Regions from separate parts of the Homo sapiens genome. Here region 1 is linked to region 2. Evidence: fine-mapped expression QTL. A gene starts in region 2. The other region holds a variant in brackets. All regions are shown on one strand. Distances are from middle to middle.

Region 1 (5,330 bases), 440 kb before region 2:
GAGGCCAGGAGTTGGAAACTAGCCTGGGCAACATAGGGAGACCCTGTCTCTACTAAAAATTAAAAAAAATATTAGCTGGGCTTGTGGTGCATGCCTGTAGTCCTAGCTAATCAGAGGCTGAGACAGGAGGATTGCCTAAGCCCAGGAGTTCAAGGTTGCAGTGAGCTATGGTAACACCATTTTACTCCAGCCTGTGTGACAGAGCGAGACTCTGACTCTTAAAAAAAATTAAAATTAATTAATTTTTTGAAAGTATAATGTGGCATCCTGGATTGGATCCTTGAAGAGAACGGGAACATCAGTGGAACAACTAGCAACATCTGAATAAAGCCAGGAATTTACTTTTTTATTTTTCTGGCTCTAACACTCAACCTCGAGAATCCAGGAATTTAGTTAACAGCGATATACCAGCATTAATGCCTTAATTTTGACAAATGTTCATGGTTACCTAACATGTTAAGATTAGGGGCCACTGGTGAAAGACACACAGGAACTCTGTACTATCTTCATAACTTCTCTACAATTCTAAATTTGTTCTAAAGTGAAAACTTAAAAATAACTTCCTTTTTTTTTTTGAGATGGAGTCTCGCTCTGCCCCCCAGGCTGGAGTGCAGTGGCAAGATCTTGGCTCACTGCAAGCTCCGCCTCCCGGGTTCAGGTGATTCTCCTGCCTCAGCCTCCTAAGTAGCTGGGATTACAGGCGTACACCACACCCGGCTAATTTTTGTATTTTTACAAAACCCCATAGTGATGGGGTTTCACCATGTTGGTCAGGCTGGTCTTGAACTCCTGACCTTGTGATCCGCCTGCCTTGGCCTCTCAAAGTGCTGGGATTGCAGGCATGAGCCACCATGCCCGGCCAAAAAGAATTTCTTTAAAACCCTAGTGTTATGTGGTAACTAATCTAGTTGTGGAAAGGCAAAAAGAAAGTTTGACAAACTTTGCTTCTAAATATTTCAACATAATTTCAGCACTTCACAGGGCTGAGGTGGGAAGATCACTTGAGCCCAGGAGTTTGAGACCAGCCTGGGCAATATGGCGAAAACCTGTCTCTACAAAAAAAAAAAAAAAATTAGCTCGGCATGGTGGCATGTGCCTGTGGTCCCAGCTGCTCAGGAGGCTGAGGTGCGGGGATCACTTGAGCCTGGGAAGTCAAGGCTACAGTAAGCCGTGATCATGCCACTGCACTTCAGCATGGGTGAAAGAGTAAGACACTAGATAGATAGATAGATAGATAGATAGATAGATAGATAGATAGATAGAATTTATTTATTTCAAGGTGGCCAGGTGTGATGGCTGACTTCTGTAACCCAGCACTTTGGGAGGCCAAGGTGAGAGAATTGCTTGAGCCCAGTTTAAGTTTAGCCTCCCGGCACATAGTGGGTCTGCATCTCTACAAAAAATAAAAACAAAAAAAATCAGCTTGGTGTGGTTGTGCACACCTGTATAGTCCCCACTACTTGCGAGGCTGAAGTAGGAGGATTGCTTGAGCCCAGGAAGTCAAGGCTGCAGTGAGCCATGATTGTGCCATTGCACTCCAGCCTGGGTGTCAGAGTGAGACCCTGTCTCAAAAAAATATATGTATGTATTTCTGTATTTCAAGGCATTGTTTTTTTTTTCTTTTTTTTTTTTTTAGACAGAGTTTCACTCGTTGCCCAGGTTGTAGTGCAAGGCGCCATCTCGGCTCACCGCAACCTCCACCTCCCGGGTTCAAGCGATTCTCCTGCCTTAGCCTCCCAAGTAGCTGGGATTACAGGCATGCACCTGTAATGCCTGGCTAATTTTTGTATTTTTAGTAGAGATGGGGTTTCTCCATGTTGGTCAGGCTGGTCTCAAACTCCCAACCTCAGGTGATCTGCCCGCCTCGGCCTCCCAAAATGCTGGGATTACAGGCATGAGTCACCACACCCAACCCTCAAGGCATTTTTGTAAGCACAGTGGAGCACTGTTAAGGATTAGCAACCAGATCACTGATACTAGCATGTTGTCAACACCCCATGCATGTAACAGTGGCCAGAGCCATTCTTGGAGATGACCTAGAATCAGGAGTGAAATTTAGGACCTTGTGATATTGCACATTTTATCAGAAAACACAAGTTTGGCCGGGCGTGGTGGCTCATGCTGGCGCAGGAGGATTGCTTGACCACAGGAGTTTGAGAGCAGCCTGGGCAACATGGTGAAACCTCATCTCTACAAAAAGTACAAAAATTAGGCCAGG[C/T]GCAGTGGTTCACCCCTGTAATCCCAGCACTTTGGGAGGCCGAGGTGGGCGGATCACACGGTCAGGAGATAGAGACCATTCTGGCCAACAAGCTGAAACCCCATCTCCACTAAAAAATACAAAAATTAGCTTGGCTTGGCAGCGTGTGCCTATAATCCCAGTTACTCAGGAGGCTGAGGCAGGAGAATCGCTTGAACCTGGGAGGTAGAAGTTGCAGTGAGCCGAGATCGCCAATGAACTCCAGCCTGGCGACAGAGCTAGACTCTGTCTCAAAAAAAAAAATTAGCTGGGTGTGGGCATGGTGGCATGTGCCTATAGTCCCAGCAACCTGGAAGGCTAAGGTGGGAGGATCACTCTCCTGAGTCCAGGAGTTCAAGGCTGCCATGAGCCATGATCATACCACTACTGCACTCCAGCCTAGGAGTGAGAGTGAGATCCTATCTCAAAAAAAAAAAAAAAAGAAAAAGAAAAAAAAGAAAATACAAATTTATAGGGGGCAAGGGTGGCATGCTGGTATTAGGTCAACTTCAGGTAATGAAATCAACCTGGCTGAGATACCAGGAGCCTGAGCTGTGTACCAGAGAAGCCTTTGGAAACAGTTTAACAGGTTGTTAATGAACTTTTGTACAAGGAATTAAATGAGGCACTCATGGAGATACAGAATAAGACATGGCCCTCGCCCTCCAGAGACTCACTGCTTACACTGGGGCTCACATCTCCTGTAGGCTTCTCAGAGCCAAACTTAACTTTGTCCCCTACCCCACCACCACATGAAACCTGCTCTTCACCTTGAATGCTCTGTCAGTTCATGGTATTATTACCATGATAGACTGAATCACAGCCCCAGGAATCCCTGGAACCTGTGAATATTTTACCATTTGTGGTAAAGGAGACTTTGCCCGTGTGATTAAGTTAAGGCTGTTGAGATGGGGGATTAGCCTGGATTATCCAGGTGGGTCCACTATAATCACAAGGGTCCTTATAAGAGGAATGGCAAGAGAATCAGAGTCAGAGCTTAGAAATGTTAGGCTGCTGTGATTTGAGGAAGCCTAAAGAAAAATTTTATTTCAAAATAGAGAAATCTTAGGCTTCTGGCTTTGCCGCTGCAGGTGGGGCCATGAACCAGGGAATGCAGGTGGCCTCTGAAAGCTGGAAAAGGCAAGGAAATGGATTCTTCTCTAGAACCTCCAGACAGGAGGAACTCAGCCCTGCCCACACCTTCAGTTTAGGATTTTTGACCCCTGGAACTGTAATATAATAAATTCGTGGGCTTTTTTTTTTCTTTTTTTTTGAGACAGTCTCACTGGAGTGCAGTGGGCATGATCACAGCTCACTGCAGCCTCAACCTCCCAGGCTCAAGCAATCCTCCCACTTCAAGTAACTAGAACTATAGGCTCAGGAGGTACGCACCACTCTGCCCAGCTAATTTTTGTATTTTTTGTAGAAACAGGGTTTCATTATGTTGCCTAGGCTGGTCTCGACCTCCTGAGCTCAAGGGATCCTCCCGCCTTAGCCTCTCAAAGTGCTGGAATTACAGGCGTTGAGCCACCACACCTGGCCAAATTCGTGTTGTTTTAAGGCACTAAGTTTGTGATAACTTGTTATAGCAACAATAGGAAACTAACACAACAGCATGTTAAGAAGCCAGGGATCTTTGGATTTTGTTGTTGTAAGCCACAGAAACTGGCTCAGACTAACAAGAAAGCAGGAATTTATTAGGGGAGATCCAGGTAGCTCACAGACTGGACACGTGGCTAGAAACCGAGGCTTGGAACCAAGATGAGAGCCCAGGAACTCTAGCATCCAGGTAGCAGGAATTCCCCAGCTGTCTCATCTGGGCACCTCAGCTGGAATAGGTTAGCTCTAATCTTTTTTCTCTCCTTGGATCGTTCACCTCAAGATTGCAGACCCTGGGAGGAGAGTGTGAATGGCCTTGTGCCATTCTGGGTCATGTGCCTGCCCTTGGCTAGAGGAAGACAGAGCACCCAATTTACAGCCCCATGTAGACTGCCTTGTGGAGGGATGGGCTGATTCTCCAAAAGGAAAGCAGCTGCTGTTAGGAAAAAGGCAAAGCGTGATGGGTGGCCCCTGCACCCCATCACCCTGGAGTCTCCCGTTCCAGTCTCCCATTCCCCGGCCTGTCTTTCTGGGCTCTTCAGTACCCCACATTCTCCAGCCACACTGGACGACCAGACATTTCCTAACACTGAGCACACTCAGGTCTCAGTGCTATCCTGTACCCTGCCTTGCCCTTGATCCCCAAAAATTCTCAAACGTGTTAGCAAATTCCACCTTGGTAAATTCTTTCCTGACTGCCACTTTCCTCGAATCTTTCATGTGCACAGCTCATAAAGTTTCTACTGCATGTTCTAGGTATTCGTGTACCTGCCTGTCTCTGTCTCTATCACCTAGTGGAGTGTTCTTGGAGGGTGGACATGAGGTCTTCCTTACCTTGGGTCCCCAGAGTTTCACACATAAAGGACTCAATGAGTTAAATCCTGTGGCATTTCCCATCATTGTCCTTTCTCCTCCCACCATTCTAATACTAGTCCTCTTCTAATCAAGACCTATAACCTCTGTCTTAGACTTTGAGCAAAGCATGGTCCTGGTTGCCTGTGGACCATACACCACATCTGACAGCATCACGTATGACCCCCTGCTTGACCTGATTGCTGTCATCAACCATGACCGGCCAGATGTCTGCATCCTGGTAAGAGGCACCAGTGGGAAAGCTGAGGAGTCAGCCTTGGAAAATGGCTTTAATGAAGTTCTAAATTTTTAGGAAGCATGTCAGTCCCTCCTCCTTTTAGAAAATATCTTTTCATTCTTAATCTACATCTTTGGAGAGGTATATATATCTATGGGCCTTTGCTAGATTTAAAAGCCCAACTTTGGCCGGGCGCAGTGGCTCACGCCTGTAATCCTAACACTTTGGGAGGCCGAGATGTGTGGATCACTTGAGGGCAGGAGTTCTAAGCCAGCCTGGCCAACATGGTGAAACCCCATCTCTACTAAAAATACAAAAAAATTAGCTGGGCATGGTGGCAGGCACCTGTAATCCCAGCTACTTGGGAGGCTAAGGCAGGAGAATTGCTTGAACCTGGGAAGCAGA
Region 2 (5,344 bases):
CCCACAGTGAGATTAGTGAAATCACCAGCATCAAGAAGGAGGATGTCATCTCCACTCTGCAGTACCTCAATCTCATCAACTACTACAAGGTAGGGAGGCAGGCAGGGGAGACAGGTGTGTGGGATGCAGAGTGCAGTCCTCTGTGGGCTGACCACCTGCTGAACCCATCTCCTCTGCCCAGGGCCAGTACATCCTCACACTGTCAGAGGACATCGTGGATGGCCATGAGCGGGCCATGCTCAAGCGGCTCCTGCGGATCGACTCCAAGTGTCTGCACTTCACTCCCAAGGACTGGAGCAAGAGGGGGAAGTGGTGACCAGACACTGCCCACTGCAGTGCCAAGACGGCAGCAGGACTGGGGCTGATAGCCCACCCCGCCCCCACTGCAGCTCCCACAAAGCACTCTAAGGGAGATGGGGCTGAGGACAGCTCAAAAAGGAGAGGACAGGCCTGGCAGGGGCCCACTGGTGCCCAGCACCAAGGCGAGCTCCGGGCTCAGACCAACTCCAAGGTCAGCTGGCCACAGGCCCAGGCCTCCTCTGAAGCAGGGACCAGAGGGAGCCAGGCAGCTGTGTACAGTGAGAAGGGATCCGGATGGGGGAGCTCTGTACAGAGGGCTGGTGATTGTAAAAATTTCTTTTGTAAAGTAGAAGTTGGGGGTGGGGTGGGTGCTGGCTGCAAAAATTTCTGGCTTCTCTTACCCCTATTGCCCCCGGCAATAAATTGTTTCTATATGCCAGAGCCATGCAAAGTTCTTGGTGGGGAGGGGGAAAGGGCCCATGCTGGCTTAGGGGCTCTAAGGCGCCCAGACTCACAGGTGCTGTGAAGAGCTCCTTTATTGGGGTGATGGAATCGGTTCCAAAGAGCTGGTTTACTGCTGTGAAGGGATCGCAGCTTTGAATTTCAAGCTCTGGTTCTCAGTCCTCGGGCACCTGTGCGTGAATCTGCAACAGGAGTCGCCTCTACTGTTGGACTTGTAAGACAGGGCGGCAAGCTGGCCCCCATACCCGAGGAAGGACCCAGCTGTTCAGAATAACCGCTTCTAGACATGCTAGGAAGAGTGGTCAGGGAGCTACGCTTCCCACACACTACCCAGTAGAATCCTCCAGGCTCCGTCTGCGCAATTGTGCTCCCCAGCCCATCCACCCGGGGGCAAGACGGAACTCCTCGTCTACTCACCGCTGCCGCAAGGCTGGGCCAAGTTAAGGCCCCACGCACTTTGGCATCCGGGCCAGGGATGGTCTCCAGACCCCACAGGGTGAAGCGGCTGAAGTTGGCAGTGGCTCCAATGAAGCGGTCCTGGGGAAGGGGCCTGGCTCAGCATCGGGACTACAGCTCCCGCCCGCACCCCCTTTCAACCCTATCCCTTTGCTCACGAAGTCCCGCTCCAGCGGCTCCTCCTCTTGGTCGTCAGTCCCGGAATCCCGCAAGGGGTCTGGCTTCCCCATCGACACCTTCTTCTCTTCTGTCACCATCACGTATCCCACGAGGCCAGGCGGCACCGCCACCTCCTCTCCCCGTAGACAGCGGCCCCGAAACGACACTTCGAGTCCTGGAGCGGGAGGCGCAAAGGGCCTCAGGCAGGACCCACGCTGGGTCGAGCCCGGAGCTGCCCTCCCGCCACCTCCGGACGGACCACGATCCCCAGGAGCCCAGGCGATGAGAAGCGCGCAGGCCGGCGCGGGGGCTGCCGGGAGCCGTAGTCCGGCCGCAGGGCTCACCCTCGGGGCCCTGGCGGATGGCGGGCGTGAAGAAGCGCCCCACCGGGGCGGGCCCGTCCACCGCAACCTCGCAGGGCAGCAGATGCAGTGTGGCGGGTACGGCGTCGCGCAATGTGGCGGAGCGCAAGTGGACGCGGTGCCTCTCGATGGCCGCTTCGTCGCCGCTCTCCATCCTCCCTCCTACGCGACGCCAGGGCTCGCGAGCTGACACTGAAGCTGGCGCGGAAAGCGCGCAGGACCTCTCAGGAAGCCTCCGCGGGGCCTCACGGGAAGCCGCCGCGGAGCTTCACGGGAAGTGTAGTCCCCTTACCCCCTAACGCTTTCCCTGGGTTCAAGTCCTAGGGTTTTCCAGTTGTGTTTTGTTTTTTTCCTTCCTTCCTTCCCCCCTCCCCTCTTTCCTCCCTCCCCTCTCCCCCTCTCCTTCCCCCTCCCCCCTCCTTCCCCCTCCCCCCTCCCCCTCCTCCCTGCCTCCCTTCCTTCCCCCCTTCCCTTCCCTTCCTTCCCGTCCTTCCCTCTTTCTTTCTTTTTCTTATTTATTATTATTTTTTTTTGACAGAGTCTCGTTTTGTCGCCCAGGCTGGAGTGCCAGGCACGGTCTCAGCTCACTGCAACCTCCGCCTCCCGGGTTCAAGCGATTCTCCTGCCTCAGCCTCCGGAGTAGCTGGGATTACAGGCGCACACCACCATGCCCACCTAATTTTTGTATTTTTAGTAGAGACTGGGTTTCGCCATGTTGGCCAGGCTGGTCTCGAACTCCTGACCTCAGGCGATCCTCCAGCCTCGGCCTTCTGAAGTACTTGGATTACAGGCGTGAGACACCGCCCCCAGCCGGGTTTTTTTCTTTTATTGTTTTTAATGGCACATGTCGTTGTAAAAATCTAAAACGATTCTGAAAAGTACTCTTTTTATATTGATTAGTAGGTAGGTTATTCATTTTTAGTTTATTAGGGACATCAACCCTTTTCTTAAATGCATTGAAAATGTTTTATCTGTGGTCTGTCTTGCAAACCTGTGTAAAGGTGATTTTTGCTGGACAAGGACTTATTTTTGTGGTTGTTTGGTCTTTTAGACAAGGTCTCACTCGCCTAGGCTGGAGTGCAGTGGTTTGATTGGCTCACTGCAGCCTCGACCTCCCAGGCTTAATCCATCCCCCATCCTCAGCTTCCTGTGTAGCTGGAACCACAGGCCTGCGCCACCACGCAGCTAATTTTTGTATTTTTGGTAGAGGTGGAGTTTTGCCATGTTGCCCAGGCTGGTCTTGAACTCCTGGACTCAAGTGATCTGCCCACCTTGGCCTCCCAAATCACGCTGGAATTACAGGCGTGAGCCACTGCACCCAGGACAAAGACTAATTTTTTGTAGTCAAATTTATCAACACTTTTCAGTCTTTTAGATTTCACAATTTTCTCTCTTTGGTTTCTCAGCTCTTCTCTAATGTTTATTTGTTCAGACACCCAACTTAGATATATTTTTTCAAGTTCTCACATAAAACAAACACAAAACTGGAAATTTAGATTTAAATTGCGTTTAATTTATACATCCCTGCACATCTGGGAGCTGGCCTTGGTATTCTGTTGAATATAAACAATTTCAGAGAACATCAGCATCGGACAAGGTCACTCTGTGACCGTGAGGGAGCAAGACAGAAACAGAACCACTCCATCGTCACATCTGAATGCTGGCAAAGGTGAACACTGTCCAAACCACAAAAGGCATGAAACATCCCTCTTTCTCCCATAAGAGAGTGACTGTTGTTTCCTTACCAATTACAGCATTAGCCTCCAACTAATCTTCTCTCCTTCTGGGCAAGACTCATTAAGATAGTCCGTCATAGACATACCCCCACCTCTGACAGCATCCAAGCCAGAGAGAAGCCTGGCTTCCCTAAACCCTGACTGAAATCACTGAACATGGGCACAAATCCTCCTATAAGTCCTTTCTAGCACCCTCTTATTGAAATTCCCCAGAGTGCAGGAGTAATATACCCAATTTGTTCAACTGCAGATGTATTCCTGGTGCTCTTTCACTAGAGTGGCAGATTAATTTAGAAAAAGGCTTGCTTTAGTTTTCTATCAGGAAAGACATAATTCAATTTATTCACATCTCCTTGGATATCTGTACAGTTGTGAGGTTTTGTTCATATATAATAGCTATTAATACATATTGTAAAGTTTATTTCTTCTTAGCTTATATTAATAATTGTTTCTATTAAGAACTGAGGGGCTGGGCATGATGATTCACACCTGTAATTCCAGTGCTTTAGGAGGCCAAGATGGGGGAGGATTGCTTGAAGCCAGGAGTTTGAGACCGGCCTGGGAAACATAGCAAGACTCCGTTCCTACAAAGAAAAAAATTTTTTTAAACATGAGTGGGGCACAGTGGCATGTGCCTGTAGTCCCAGCTACTCAAGAAGCTAAGGTGGGAAGATCACTTAAGCCAAGGAGTTTGAGGCTGCCGTTCGAGTCACGATTGCACCACTGCACACCAGCCTGGGTTACGGAGGGAGACCCTTTCTCTAAAAACCAAAATTGGGGCTTTTATTTTTTTCATTTTATTTTCTAACTGATTTTCTTTTTAATCTATAGCAGGGGTTGGCAAACTTTTTCTGTAAGGGGTCAAATAGTAAATATTTTAGGTTTTGTGGACTTTATGGCTTCTGTCGCAGCTACTCAACTTCACCGTTATAGCATGAAAGCAGTCATAGACAATACATAAATGAATGAGCGTTGTTGTGTTCCAGTAAATCTTTGCAGAAACAGACAAGGGGTTGGATTTGAACCACAGGCCATAGTTTTCAGACCCCTTGTCTATAGCAAACCTGTTGATTTTTATATGTCCATTTTTAAACTAGATATCGACTGAATTATTTTGTTCCTAATGATTTTTATTTTATTTTAAGATCCCCAGAATTAGTCACCTCTCTTTCAAATAATAATTTTTACCTCACCATTACATCTTCTTTTTGTTTTTTGTTTTTTGTTTTTTTTTTTTCATTACACCTTGTAATTTGTTTTCTTTTCTAATTGCCTTGGCCAGTACTTGCAGAACAGTCTCTCAAATGTTACTGGTATCAGAGGACAACATTGTCTTTTTCCTGAAACTTTCACGGGAGTGCTTCTGCTGTTTCACCAATAATCATGAAACTGCCTTTTGACTTGTTATATATGTCTCATTAAAGCTGTACTACTAAGAGCTTTTAAAAATTGGGAGTAGATGTTGGATCTTATTTTTTATTTTTATGTTTTTGGTTTTGCAAGTTTCCTGTAGTCTGGATATTAGTAATTGCATTCCTATAGTGTCAAGGTAATCTATACCTGTATTTTCTGTAATTACATCTAGAAGCTTAATTCGATTCTTTGGGGAGGGGAGAGGGCAAGACTACTTCATGGGTGGTTTTGTGTTTTTCCCTCTTTTTGTGAGGTTAGCAGCCATAGATGATCATTGCCTAGATCCTTTAATTCATTAGAGGTTAAAACGCGTGTGTACGCGCACACACACACACACACACACATATTTTTGGGACAGAGTCTCACCTGGTAGCCCAGGCTGGAGCGCGGTGGCGCGATCTTGGCTCACTCAGCTCAACCTCTGTCTCCCGGGTTCAAGCAATTCTCCTGCCTTGG

The links. PIP is the estimated chance that this variant, and not a neighbour inherited with it, causes the effect.
Region 1: its variant is the best candidate, but not a certain one, in a credible set for the expression of RNASEH2C in whole blood (Lepik 2017, PIP 0.55).

Annotation. Positions count from the first base shown.
Region 1 is chr11:65,282,913-65,288,242 of GRCh38, forward strand. It overlaps POLA2 (DNA polymerase alpha 2, accessory subunit), which reads left to right. Exons shown (of 18, transcript NM_002689.4): 11 at 4,804-4,928. Among named protein-coding and RNA genes, the nearest start is that of POLA2, 24 kb to the left of the region's middle. The variant C/T (reference allele first, on the strand shown) is at 2,219.
Region 2 is chr11:65,718,866-65,724,209 of GRCh38, forward strand. RNASEH2C (ribonuclease H2 subunit C) reads right to left here and starts at 1,933. Exons shown (of 4, transcript NM_032193.4): 1 at 1,722-1,933; 2 at 1,377-1,552; 3 at 1,180-1,299; 4 at 1-944. The coding sequence starts at 1,893. The coding sequence ends at 918. KAT5 (lysine acetyltransferase 5) reads left to right here. Exons shown (of 13, transcript NM_182710.3): 12 at 8-89; 13 at 182-739. The coding sequence ends at 316. RefSeq lists a silencer at 1,619-1,858 and an enhancer at 2,009-2,078.